4 linked regions of the Homo sapiens genome follow. The protein of the gene in region 4 purifies or fractionates together with the protein of the main gene of each other region. This does not show direct contact. Each region holds a gene or a part of one and is shown on either strand. Other genes may lie near its edges.

Evidence for each region. Proteins that work in one complex are often made in the same cells at the same time.
Region 1: the proteins of AGL (region 4) and NAXD fractionate together in Homo sapiens (co-fractionation; one large-scale study listed by BioGRID). This does not show direct contact.
Region 2: the proteins of AGL (region 4) and CAT fractionate together in Homo sapiens (co-fractionation; one large-scale study listed by BioGRID). This does not show direct contact.
Region 3: the proteins of AGL (region 4) and IGF2BP2 fractionate together in Homo sapiens (co-fractionation; one large-scale study listed by BioGRID). This does not show direct contact.

What each region holds. Positions count from the first base shown.
Region 1 is NC_000013.11:110,622,045-110,625,544, forward strand, and holds part of NAXD (ATP-dependent (S)-NAD(P)H-hydrate dehydratase), read left to right. Parts: intron 1-171; coding exon 172-322; intron 323-2,189; coding exon 2,190-2,235; intron 2,236-3,145; coding exon 3,146-3,234; intron 3,235-3,500. UniProt on the Homo sapiens protein: Catalyzes the dehydration of the S-form of NAD(P)HX at the expense of ATP, which is converted to ADP.
Region 2 is NC_000011.10:34,452,434-34,455,933, reverse strand, and holds part of CAT (catalase), read right to left. Parts: intron 2,845-3,500; coding exon 2,740-2,844; intron 2,134-2,739; coding exon 2,008-2,133; intron 1-2,007. UniProt on the Homo sapiens protein: Catalyzes the degradation of hydrogen peroxide (H(2)O(2)) generated by peroxisomal oxidases to water and oxygen, thereby protecting cells from the toxic effects of hydrogen peroxide.
Region 3 is NC_000003.12:185,692,543-185,696,042, forward strand, and holds part of IGF2BP2 (insulin-like growth factor 2 mRNA-binding protein 2), read right to left. Parts: intron 687-3,500; coding exon of another isoform or gene 635-686; intron 239-634; coding exon of another isoform or gene 221-238; coding exon 157-220; intron 1-156.
Region 4 is NC_000001.11:99,884,861-99,888,360, forward strand, and holds part of AGL (glycogen debranching enzyme), read left to right. Parts: intron 1-3,117; coding exon 3,118-3,248; intron 3,249-3,500. UniProt on the Homo sapiens protein: Multifunctional enzyme acting as 1,4-alpha-D-glucan:1,4-alpha-D-glucan 4-alpha-D-glycosyltransferase and amylo-1,6-glucosidase in glycogen degradation.

The DNA of each region.
Region 1 (3,500 bases), on a different chromosome or scaffold from region 4:
AATTGCATGTGTTAATGTAATTTTGAACATCATATTTGCTTACAGAAATCCATTGGGTAAAAATCTATAGCATTCGTAATAACTTTGGAGAGGGTTTTGGTTAATGGGCTATTATGTGTACTAACAATATCTGTTTACCTTTCTGAATTATTCATTTTTCTTGTCTTTCAGTTTTAGAAAGAGCGTTTTCGCTACGTAAAGCACATTCGATAAAGGATATGGAAAATACTTTGCAGCTGGTGAGAAATATCATACCTCCTCTGTCTTCCACAAAGCACAAAGGGCAAGATGGAAGAATAGGCGTAGTTGGAGGCTGTCAGGAGTAAGTAGCTGATGTGCAGTGTTGGTGTTTAAAAAGTCAGTTGCTGGCTGGCTGCTTACCTGACTGTCATTCACGCTGTCTAGTTTGACCTCAGTAATCATTTCCAAATGCAGCCTGATAGGACACTCAGTATTTTTCAGTGATCCACTTTTTGATTAACTAGGAAATAACTCTGAGGAGCCCTGACTGAATTACTCCCTCATGTGTGTCAGTGTTAAGTTTTGTCGTAGTGGGGAAATGAGCCTGTTTTTTCCACTTTCTGCTTTTCTGTATTTAACTGGACTTCATACCACAAGCATGTTTTTTGTATTTAGGATAGAAACACTCAGCAACCTCTTGGTTTACTTTGTCAATTTAAAGATGTTACTGAAAGTCATTTATGAAATTTGACAAATCCCTAGCTTGCTTCTGTTCTGTTTTGCTGCTGTGTTTGGTACGTAGCTGTTTGTAAGTTGTCCTTGGGTGTGAAGGATACCTTCTGCCTCTGACGGAAAGCCTGCCGTGGCTCCTCTGTTTCTGCTTGCTTTCTGTTTGCATGGATGTGGTATCTCTCTTTGCCCATCCCTCCATTTGCAGCTGTTGATCGTGCCATAGGGTGTGTTAGAGTTGTTACTGGATCAGGTATGTGTGCATTTTACATGCTGGTGACGCTGCCGAATTGTCCCCCCATTGCGTTAGTGTGTGTTGCCTCCCAAGAGCACCTGTTCCCTGCAGCCCTTGGAGGACAACCTTTGCTAGTGAAGTCGACAAGCTTTCTTGTTGTTTTAATGCATTTCTCTTATTAGTGAGGCTTGTTTTCACATGATGGAAGAGTGTGTGCATGTATGTTGCCTGTTCTGTACTGTCTTTTGCATTTACAACGCTATTGACACCGCTTTGCAGGAGAAGGCCATGTAAGGTGATGGGTATCAGCATTTGCCCAGGTCTCTCTTTCTTGGGTTAGCAAAACATTTCACTGCTCGGAATGGACATAAAGGTTGCATTTGCCCATCTGACGGAGGGCAGGGCTCTTCCTTTCTGTGCCTGAAGTGCCCTTAGACCTGGAGAGCCAGGGATTCCAGAACAGCCAGGCGGAAGCAGCTGGGTGGTGGGTGCCGTTTCTTGTTTGTCCCAGGTGGCCCCCATCTGGCCTCTGCTGACTGTGACTCTTGGAGGACGGGGTCTGCCCACTCTGGGACCCTGTCCATGCCCGACTGCTCCGAACATGTGGTTGTCACTTTCTTCTCTCCAGGCAGAAGCCTGCGGTCAGCTCCTTACCTTGAACATTCACATTGCAGGGAGACTGCAGGCATTACTGCCAGAGATTCACTCTCCTGAAATGCATGAAGGTTTTATGTAAAAGATCGACATTTCTGGCTGGGCGCGGTGGCTCATGCCCGTCATCTTAGCATTTTGAGAGGCCGAGGCGGGCGGATCACCTGAGGTTGGGAGTTTGAGACCAGCCTGACCAACATGCAGAAACCCTGTCCCTACTAAAACTACAAAATTAGCCGGGTGTGGTGGCGCATGCCTGTAATCCCAGCTACTCAGGAGGCTGAGGCAGGAGAATCGCTTGAACCCAGGAGGCGGAGGTTGCAATGAGCCAAGATCGTGCCATTGCACTCCAGCCTGGGCAACAAGAGTGAAACTCTGTCTCAAAAAAAAAAAAAAAAAAGACATTTCTAGTCGAACCTGGTTCATGTTCATTGAACATTTGCTGAGCATCTTTTAGGTGTTGGGTTTGTGCTGTGTGCTTCATGTCTCTGTTATTTATTGATAAACCATGTCTATATTATTTATGTCTATTTTTTATTGATAACCTATTTATTGATCAAGGTATGCTTACCTTATTCTCAGAAGTTTTTGACTCTAAATACCTTCTTTTTAGGTACACTGGAGCCCCATATTTTGCAGCAATCTCAGCTCTCAAAGTGGTATGTTTACTTAAAATTTCTTTATTGGGATTTTTCTGGTAGAGAGTTTGATTATTTAAATATGATTAAAGCAAATGTTTTCTGATAGAAATCTAAATAATATCTTAGGGTAATCATAGCTAATAGAAACACCGTTAAGTCTATCCTGACATCTGTGCATAAACAAGATCACTTCAGTTGAAGCTCATTTTTTTTTGAGACAGAGTTTCGCTCTTTTTGCCCAGGCTGGAGTGCAATGGCGGGATCTCGGCTCACAGCAACCTCCGCCGCCTGGGTTCAAGCGATTCTCCTGCCTCAGCCTCCCGAGTAGCTGGGATTACAGGCACCTGCCACCACGCCTGGCTAATTTTGTTTGTATTTTTAGTAGAGTCAGGTTTTCTCTCTGTTGGTCAGGCTGGTCTCGAACTCCTGACCTCACGTGATCCATGCGCCTCGGCCTCCCGAAGTGCTGGGATTACAGGCGTGAGCCACTGCACCTGGCCTCAATTGAAGCCCATTTTTAAAACCTAAAGCGTGATTTGTATTGTACTCCACCAAAGTGCACCTGGGATGCCTTTGTAGGTCGCAGCTGAAGCCGCTGATCCTGCAGTTTCCCATGAGCTGAGCAAGTGCTAACGGCCGGCCTCTTCCTGTGACCCTTCCTCCTGGAGGGTGACCAGACCGAGCTGGGCCGTGCTGGTGTGTGTGGCTCTGACCCTGCCTCTGCAGTGGCGGCAAAAGTCTTTCTTTTTAGGTATTGTGCTCTGCGCCCTGGCCCTTTGCTAAGCCACCTGGCTGGGTGTAATCCGAGCTAGTACGTTTCTCATGCACGTCACCAGGGCTGAGTAATGAGCGCTGGACGCCTGTGTCTGGCGGGTGGGCAGCGATGCCGGAGCGATCCCTGAGTCGGCCTCTTGTGCTCCTTCATCAGGGCGCAGACTTGTCCCACGTGTTCTGTGCCAGTGCGGCCGCACCTGTGATTAAGGCCTACAGCCCGGAGCTGATCGTCCACCCAGTTCTGTGAGTCGCTCTGCGCCGGCTTCTCGTAGGTTCTCTTTCCCTCCTGCATCATTTGGGGTTTTGGCACTGACACCGAAAGCGTCCTGATGGATTTTCCATCCTCAGAGTTTCTCAGCAGGTGCTGTAGAGGAAGTAGGGAAATGAAGGAGCCCGTTCTTCTGGGGTCAGAATAAGACAGAGACGGCGGGGTGGAGAGGTGGGTGGGGGAGCTTGGGCCTGTTGGAAATGGCCGGGGCCCAGCTCCAGAGGCAGGGAGGCCCTGTGGG
Region 2 (3,500 bases), on a different chromosome or scaffold from region 4:
GATTATGAGTAACACTGCCCAAAGAATGAACTTTCTTTACAACAATACTTCTATTGTTCAAATCTGATACTAATGAATTTATCAACAAGAAATTCTACTTGATTATCCCAATACTTTTAAATGTCAAGGGAATCCCATCTACACATTTCATATTTAAAATCAGTCCTATCTTTCCCTTTATGTATTCTATTATTTGAATTTTTACACTCATGTTACTTTCCAAATCAGAAAAATCAAAATATACTTAAAAGTAGGCAAAAGATTAATAAAATTAAAGGACTACTTGCCTTTTATCATGAAGTAATGTTTTAATTCCATTTCATGACAGCTCAAATCAATTACTGAGACTGTGCTCGGCCAGTATCCCTTCACCCCTGTCCTATTCCTTTTTTTTTTTTTTTTAATAAATCATAGAATCATAGCTCATAGAGTTGAAAAGAACTTCAGTACAGCCACCTGGAACTAGTTCTCTGACTATGAGCAGGCAAAATTAATATTCTGACTTTCCAAGCAAGACATTAAAACCCAGAGAAGCTGTGTCACTTCATAAGTGCTCCTGTTATCATATCATACTGTTCTTTGATGGACTGACCATGTGATCTTATTCTCAAAGACCTCCCAACAAGCCAAGTGCCGCAGAAAGATTTCCTTAGCAAAAATCAACTCTGAACGCTGGTCTATTTCTACCACAGAAATCCCAACTGTCTCATCAGTGAAAAGGTTTGAACTCTTACTACTGAACAAGAAGTAAAGCCACCTTCAGGATTAAAACAATGAAGGTCACCATGTACAGATCGCCCAAAGAGCTAATATATTAAGTAGTACAATAACACTGCAATACCTTTCTGATTTTAACTGAATCCTTTAGGTTTAGAAAAGAATAATCTTAGGTCAGAATAATCCAGACTGATGAATCCATGTAGATCTCAGGCTACCTTAGGGCCCTAGGATAAAAGACCCACAAGCAATCCAATCTTTCCAGGACTTGTATAGCTGGTAATATTATGCCAACTTCACAGTGAAAAGAACTGGAGCTCAAAGAACTTTTAATACTATGCCCAAGGCCACAATTATCTAGGAGAGTAGAAATTTGAGTTCAGGCTGGCATAACTCCAAGGCTACCAACTAGACTGGCTGTCCTAGATACAACCACTTAGTCTTATTCTAAGTAATACTACATTGACCCTTTTGGCAATTACAAGCCAATGGGTCAACTGTTTCATAAAATTTTTCCTTGTCAAATATTATAGATCCAAGTTATGAATATAAAAAGAGGTGATAGTTTTCCTGTTTGATATACCTACATTAAATTGTTCAGATAAAGAAGAAAGCAGGATAGAAGAAAATAGGGCTTTTGGATGTCACTAAGAGAGAGATTATCCAGTACTGGTCACGAGCCCACTTCTTTCTGCTTATCTTAGCAGCAGTATTTGGAAACAGAGGTTCTCAGGCTTGTTTCTGACTAGCCCTTGGGAGTTCTCTGGGAATATCACTAACATGCCAGGGTTCACTGGCAATATTGCTCATTGTAACAAATGCCATGCTTATACCAAAAGAGGGCCCTTTATAATATTTCAGTTGATTAAAACATTCTCAAAACCCTCCCCAGATGTAACTGATTTGATCTGGCTATATGAATGCAAATTTTTAAAAACAGTATAATTTTGTTTTCTGACATTTGTAATTGATTTTACTTATATGCCTTGTTCATAATAAAACCTCAATAAATGCTAAGTAAATAGATGGATGACTTAAAAAGTTAAAAGAAATGATATTGGAAAGACACTATTGGATGTTGGAAGTGATAATGAGATTGGGATACGCTCCAAGGTCCTCAGATGGTAGCCAACAAAATCAGTACTGATCAATGAGATCAATACTTCCCAACTTTGGGGATGGAGGTGAGGGAAAAGTGGGAGAAGCCTTAATCTTTGCTCAATCCTTCAGGAAAAATAAGGAGGTATGCGGTAGGAGCCTTGTACCCTCTGCCCCAAAGGTAACACATACCTTATAATGGAATTTGCAATAAACTGCCTCCCCATTTGCATTAACCAGCTTGAAAGTATGTGATCCATATCCATTCATGTGGCGATGTCCATCTGGAATCCCCCGATCACTGAACAAGAAAGAAACCTAAAGAACAGAAATATAAAGCCTAAAATGTTTTCATTTAAATCAAAACATCCTTGATTTTTAAGATATTCCTTAGTTTCCAGAAAGTCCCTTAATGACATAAAACATACTAGCCAATTTCCCATGGGAAGGGTTACCATTATTATTTCACTTGTAGAAAATAACAAACAGAAAAATTTTAAATCAAAATGATATGCAAATCACTAATACTATGACTCAAAATTCTATGAAGGAAAGCCAAAACAACCTGAAAACTGGCCTAATTTGTTATTCAAAATTTATTTGCATAGCAAATTTGTTTGGTACTACTTTCCCCCCACTTCCTTAATACAGAGCTTTACCTTACACTACAGACTTTCATCCTTACTACTGCTAAATATCAACTGACAATGTTGCTAGCTATCTATCATCATCATCATCATCATTTAAGGCCGATGAATGGGGGATGATTAGTAAAGCCAGTTACTACAAAACTCTTCACGATCAAGAAATCTGAGGAAGCTGATTCCAATAAAATAGCCAAAACTGGAGAGACACTTTATGAAGAGGCATAATTAAACACTGCATCCCAGGTGATATAATACAATGGCAAAAAAGGGTTCATACCTGATGCAGAGACTCAGGACGTAGGCTCCAGAAGTCCCAGACCATGTCCGGATCCTTCAGATGTGTCTGAGGATTTCTCTTTTGGCTGTGGATAAAAGATGGAAACTAAATAGAAAAAAGAGAGAAAAAAATCCAAAAACTAAGTTTACAGGAATTATGGTGTCTTTCATTATATATGCCTATTACTAGGTTTATGGATTATAATTCTAAATACAATCCTAGAATTTTAAACTGCCAAACCATAATATGAAATTTACTCAGCATAGACAACTAGCATCTAAGATACCCTAAAGTATTTCAAATATACTCAAAACTATAGTCTTTTCTTTTTTTTTTTTTTTAAGACAGGGTCTCACTCTGTCACCCAGGCTGATTGCAATGGCATGATCACAGCTCACTGCAGCTTTGACCTCCTGGGCTCAAGCAAATCTCCCACCTCAGCCTCCCAAGTAGCTGGGACTATAGGCATGAGCCACCACACTTGGCTAATTTTTGTATTTTTTTGCAGAGATATGGTTTTGCCATGTTGCCCAGGCTGGTCTCGAACTCATGGACTCCAGTGATCTGCCTGCCTTGGCCTCCCAAAGTGCTGGGATTTATAGTATTTCTTCACGGAAAAAATATACCCACCCTCCCGCATGCGCGCACGCACACACACCCCCTCCTGCTGACTCAGAGCATGTAGAGACACCCTCTGCTTGTTTCCAAAGTAAAGTCCCTCTTTTTACTAATCTTCGATGCTCTGCAAGGAAAACTAAACT
Region 3 (3,500 bases), on a different chromosome or scaffold from region 4:
TCAGATGCCGTGGAGCTCCATGGGTATGTCAAAGGTGGCACATATCCAGCTCAAAGATCTGCATCTTTTTAGAAAACATTTAAAAACACAGAACTCAATGGAATTCAAATATAAAAACAAATAAATTTAAACAGAAATAAGCCCAAATCTGCTTACATTTTTGCTTCTTCTCTTGTTGCATATGTGACGTTGACAACGGCGGTTTCTGTGTCTGTGTTGACTAGGGAAAAGGCAAAAACTACACTGTCATAGGAAAAAGTGCTGTCACCCTCTGGCTTAATGTAAACAGACAAACTTTAGAGAAAAATGCATAAAACCCTCATCACACTGGCTCCACAGTTATCTGCATCTCTACGTTTATTCATCTGAGTTCACAGTAATTTGTAATCAATTGTATATAACACGTTTGTAATCAATCGTATGAACAACTCAGAACTATATTTTCCACATATTTTATAAACACTTTTATATGAGTATTTTGTATCAGTACATTTTCTTTGTATTTTTCATTTTTAATGTCTATATAAAATTGCAGTGAGTCAAATGTACCATGACTTGCCTAACCATTCCCCAATTGTTGGTAAGTAGGCTGTTCCCACTATTTGCTAGTCTAAATAGTGTTGCTAAAAATCACCTTTGTTGCAAACATCACTGGATTGTGTGTTCTTCTGAATTACTTCTTTAGGCTAAAATCACAGAAGAAAAGTAATGCAGTAAAAGAACATGATGCTTTTTAATGCATATTTTCAGACTGGTCTCCTAGAAGTTTGTATCAATTTATTACATCACTATCAAGGTATGAGTTTTAATTATAATTTGCATTAATTCTTAAATAATTGGATATACATATAAAACAATAAGAAAATATTTTAATTTAAATTATTCATTCACTGACAAGGTTGAACCATCACTATTTTTGTTTCCCTTTGACTGAACTCTTTGACTGTGTGGGTTAAATCTAATAAATAAAACTGACAATTCTAATTACTTGGCTAAAAGAGAAAGTATAAACTCTATGATTGGCTAATAAGGGATTACTCTTGTGAGTTGTCTTGTCTTAGATCATAATTTCTTGCCTCTTCTTCTATAGTTAGAAATTAAAAATAAATTCAAATGCCAGAGAAAACTTTCTCAATCCAAGCCAGTAAACTTAAACACCAAAAATATATGTTTCCCAAAACAAAGGTGACTAGATCAATTCTTCCCTTTAAAAGATTTAAGCTGTTGGGAGTTTGGAGTTAACAACAACATTAAGTTAAAGATAATTCAAGAAAATTATGATAAACCTGCTGTCCAAAGTAATAATAAAACTCTATAATATACGATTCTTTACACTGGACCCATGCTTGAGCTTCAAGAATTCTATAAACCCCTCCAAAATGATTCAAACTTGTAGAAATGTGAATTTTTCTTGTTATTTTACAAGATTTGCAAAGGGACCTGAGACCCCGAAAAGCTTAAGGACTACTGTTAAAAATACTGTTTGTTAAATAACTTTAAAGCAGCTGCAGCCTTTATGGGTTGCAGGGAGTTGTATGTAATGCTCAGAAAGAGCTGCCACTGAGAATTACATGTAATAAACCCGAGCCCAGCTCTGGCCTTGGCCTGGAGTGTTCATAGCACGCTTTAATTCACACTTAACCCACAGAAGTCCTCACAGTGCAAAACAGGGGAGGTGTAGCACATTACTGTCCTCTCTCAGTGCTGACACAGAGAATGCTAAAAAGGTTTCATATTTGCTGCTTTCTAGTGCTACAGATAAGGCTGTAGACTCCCAGAAAGGGCTGGGTTTGAACCTCCTGAATAAAGCTATCCATTAGGATTCTCAGATTCTGTGCTCACTTCTTAGTCATATGCTCTGTTCTTCAAAGATGTTAGTCTTCAGGAAATCAGGCAGTTCTTTGATTCTGTGACGAGCTAAGCTCCATTCAAATAATTTATTTCACTGGGCATGAAAGTTCTATAAAGTTGCCTAAAACTCTACTGAAAATATTTTCCTGCTGAATCAGGAATCACTCATGTAACAGGACAAAACAATAGCCCAACAGTTCTATCCTGTTGTTGTTAGGCAGCTGGAAACTGGGGGGTCTCCAGCACACAGCTGCCCTAGGACCTATAAACTGCCCCAGGGACCTGGAATATATTTTTCTTGCGTAGCATTGTCCTCAGTTTATAATATAATCTTAACTAGTAACTTTTACAGGTTCATGTCTGCAAGACCATCTTGCCTACAACACCCAATCATTAGAATGTCTTCTTTTCTGCCGGGCACGGTGGCTCACACCTGTGATCCCAGCACTCTGGGAGGCCAAGGTGGGTGGATCACTTGAGGCCGGGAGTTTGATGCCAGCCTGGCCAACACGGTGAAACCCTGTCTCTACTAAAACTACAAAAATTAGCCAGGCATGGTGGCGCTCACCTATAATCCCAGCTACTAGGGAGGCTGAGGCACAAGAATTGCTTGAACCCGGGAGGTGGAGGTTGCAGGGAGTAGAGATCATGCTCCTGCACTCCAGCCTGGGCGACAGAGTGAGACTCCGCCTCAAAAAAAAAAGCAGGGGGAGTCTTCTTTCCATGTCGAAGGAAATAAGAACTAAGAAATAGAATCCTTATAAATCATGTCTTCTTTCTGAGCTCTTTCCCTTCACCTTTGGGCATGGGCAGGCAGCAGCATAAACTGAATAATATCTGAATAATTACTGCTTTAAAACTATTAATTAAACTAGCAGAATAGATCATATACAAGAAAATGGGTTGTTTGCAATTTTTCCTAAGTGAACTTGAACAATCCCTTCAGCTTACGTATGACTCTGCTGTCTACAAATGCCTTATACAGGTTCTCTTTGGGTAACACAACTATCCAGTGACAGAGGAAGGGTAGAAATTTCTCTCTCAATTTGACACTTGTGCATACTGAGTCAGTGAGGTTATTTGACTTTTTCAAGGGTTCGCAGTCAGTAAATGACTGAATTTACATTCTGTTTTCTAGGTCAAGGCAAAAATAATCTTTATCATGTATTATTGCCTGTCACATCAGGAGTTTGGAATCTACTTTTCTGGGACTCTTAAAGAGCTAGATAAGATATCAGCTTTAGGTACCACTGTTTTCCTTTTAAAAATCATAGTATTTCATGCTTTAGAAGATAAAAAAGAGGTTGGCAGGAAGAAAAGTATCTTCTGGGCATTTGCAGCACTGCTCCTGAGACAGGTGTTCTCAAACTTGAGTGTACACAAAAATCACTTCAGGGTTTTTGTTTGTTTGTTTTGAGACAAAGTCTCACTCTGTCACCCAGGCTGGAGTTCAGTGGTGTAATCTCGGTTCACTGCAACCACCTCCCAGGCTCAAGCGATTCTCGTGCCTCAGCCTTCCAAGTAGCTGGGATTACAGGCATGCGTCACCATACCTGGCTAATTTTGTATTTTTAGTAGAGATGGGGTTTTGCCATGTTGGCCAGGCTGGTCTTGAACTCCTGGCCTCATGTGATCTGCCCACCTGGGCG
Region 4 (3,500 bases):
ATTGTTTTATAATTTGTGTGTGTACCTGCATGTGTATTCTCTCTATAGATATAGATACACACATGCCTACATGCATACATAACACATGCATGCATCTCTGTATACACACACACACAATTTCTCTGAAGTATTTGAGACTAAGTTGCATACCTCATACCCTTTACCACATCATTTTTTAAAAATGTCAACATATTATTCTACTTTATGGCTTTACCATAATTTATTTAAACAATTTCCATTTTTGGACATCTAGATTGCTTCTAATTGTTCCCTATTATTTATGTCTTTGTACATTCATCTTTACATGAATCCTTAGTTATTCCCTTTCTAGATGTTTCTGCATACTACAGAAGAATATAGGTTTTGAGGTTTAGACCTAGGTTTAACTTTAGCTTCATTACTGTCAGTATGATCTTGGATCTATTGTTTAGAACTTTCATCATCTCAGTCTCCCATCTGGAAAATTTTGTAAGAATTAAATAGGATAACACTTATAAAACACTTAATACAATGCCTGGCACATAGTAAATGCTCATAGTTTGCCATCATTAGTACTAGTATAAATATTTTCAGAAATGGAAGTTTTGGGTTAGACGAGGGGTCCCCAACCTCTGGGCCACAGACTGGTACTGGTCCATGGCCTGTTAGGAACCAGGCCGCACAGCAGGAGGTGAGTGGCAGGTGAGCTTTATCTGTATTTACAGCTGCACCCCATCACTCGCATTACCACCTGAACTCTGCCTCCTGTCAGATCAGTGGCTGCATTAGATTCTCATAGGGACGTGAACCCTATTGTGAACTGTCCCTGCGAGGGATTTAGATTGCATGCTGCCTATGAGAATCTAATGCCTGATGATCTGCCACTGTTTGCCATCACCCCCATATGGGACTGTCTAGTTGCAGGAAAACAAGCTTAGGGGTCCCACTGATTCCACATTATGGTGAGTTGTATAATTATTTCAGTATATATTACAATGTAATAATAGTAGAAATAAAGTACACAATAAATGTAATGCACTTGAATCATCCCAAAACCACGCCCCTCACCCCCAGTCTGTGAAAAAATGTCTTCTGTGAAACCAGTCCCTGGTGCCAAAAAGGACCATTGGGTTAGACTATATCCATATATTTGAGGCTGTTAATACATACTGCCAAATTTTCTCCAGAAAGATTATAATAATTAATACTTTCAGCTCTATCCAAGAGTTTCCATCATTAGCAATACTGAGTATATATTATTATAACGTAGTGTTTAAGGGCATGGAGTATAGAACCAGACTAACTGGATTTGAATTCCATTGCAGACTCTTATTAGCTATAAGAAGTAAGACCTGGCTGAGTGCAGTGGCTCACTCCTATAATCTCAGCACTTTGGTAGGCCAAGGTGGGAGGATTGCTTGAGCCCAGGAGTCCAAGACCAGCCTGGGCAACATAGTGAGACCCTATCTCTACAAAACGTTTTAAAAAAATTAGCTGGAAGTTGTGGCATGCACCTGTGGTCACAGCTGTTCAGGAAGCTGAGGTAACAGCATCAGCATCAGTTGAGCCCAGGAGGTCTAGGCTGCAATGAGCCATGATTGTGCCACTGCTCTCCAGCCTGGGCAACAGAGCAAGACCCTGTCTCTAGAAAAAAAAAAAGAGATCTTTGAGAATTTATAATAGACATAATTATAGCACCTTTCTTACAGATTACTTGAGTAAAACACAATAGTTTTTGACACATAGTGATTGATAAGTGTTAGCTGTTACTAATCAAACTGGTAAATATAAAATAGTTAAAAATAACATCTCATGTAATTTAAATATTAAGCTAAATTATTTTGTTCATTGGCCATTTGTATTTATTTGTTGAAGTGTTGTTTTATGTATTACCCCATTTTGCTATTGTGTTCGGCTTTCTTTGTTGTTTTGTAAGACTTTTTATTGTTAAGGATATTAACTCCTAATTCAAACTATTCTTAATAAAGTAGTTGCATTCTTAACCAAAAAATCTGTGATGAAGCAGCTTTGTGTTTGGATGGACTGCTTGTAAAATGCATGTTCCTCCTCAGACCTGCTCAGATTATTTTGGAGCAAGGCCAAGAAATTTGCAGTTTTATAAGATCCCCAGGTAATTTTTAGGCAAGGAGTCCACTGGCTATTGAAAAATATTGTCCTAGAATGGAGTTGATACTGAGACTTCTGAGTGATTTGACTCAGGCTTGACTCACAAACTAGCTCTGGGGAGGGAGGCTGATATGGAGAGAACAAAGCACAGATGACAATGATTTTCTAAATTGAGCCAGAACTAAATGGGAAAGAAAGATACACATTCAAGAGGATATGTGTTCACATAAAATAGCAGTCATGTAAAATGAAATTACCTGAGCATCTATTATAGAAGCACAAGAAAATACAGTTTCAGCTGTATTCAGGTGTGGTCAGTTATACAGTCTTACTGCTAACCAAACAAAGGGAAATCAAGGCCATGATAGTCTTCCCTCTGACAGTTATCAGGAGGCATCTTAATCTGAGAAAAATCCTGGTTTCTTGAATAAACAAGCTGAGGGGCAGTGCAACCTTAGAGAAGAGAAAGGAAGGGACTTGGAGAGAAATATGAAGGTAGAGAGCATGTGATTTCCTAGGCAATTAACTTTGACTTTTTATTCCTTTAGTCATCCTCTGATAAGTATTTTTAGTATACAATAACTAGCATAAAAAGTTCTTGATGTCTCACTTAGGGGAATATAAAGGAGAGAAATCAGATGAGAACACATAAATAAATGAAGGAAGGAAGGAAAACACTAAGTCCAAACTAGAAAGGTTAAAAAAACAGATTTATAAGATAAAGGATATAGAAGCCAAAATATTTTCCCAGCATACTTCTAATCAATACAATTTGGTACTTGATTATTTGCTTGGTTTGGGAGTAATGTCGCTTCTAATTGAATTTTTTTTCACAATTTGTCCTTTAATAATTACTTAAAATGTATGAGTATAATGTTTATTTGAATGCTGAGTTCCTAAAACATACACTGCTAAGACATTTTATGATTGTAATTCAGATTTTCTTCTTTTGTTTCTATTGACAACAAGCGAAACTTCAATATATGGTTATCTTTATTTTCCAATTCTTAGTCTTGCCTCCAGATTAACTTTGGCTGAGCTAAATCAGATCCTTTACCGATGTGAATCAGAAGAAAAGGAAGATGGTGGAGGGTGCTATGACATACCAAACTGGTCAGCCCTTAAATATGCAGGTCTTCAAGGTAAGCAAATGGAAGGATAGCTGAGCTTTGTGTTTTTCTTTTAGGGTCATCTGGTGTCTTCTTTACAGACATAGATATAGGCTCAGAGTATGCCTACTTGGGTTGCAATTATGGCTCTGCTTCTGCTCATTAATTGACCTTTGGCAAGTAATATAACCTCTTTGTGTGCCAATTTCTGCTTCTATAAAATTTGAATAATATTATCTAATTTAGAAGGTTTTTGTGAGGATTAATGAGATCATTCACATAAAA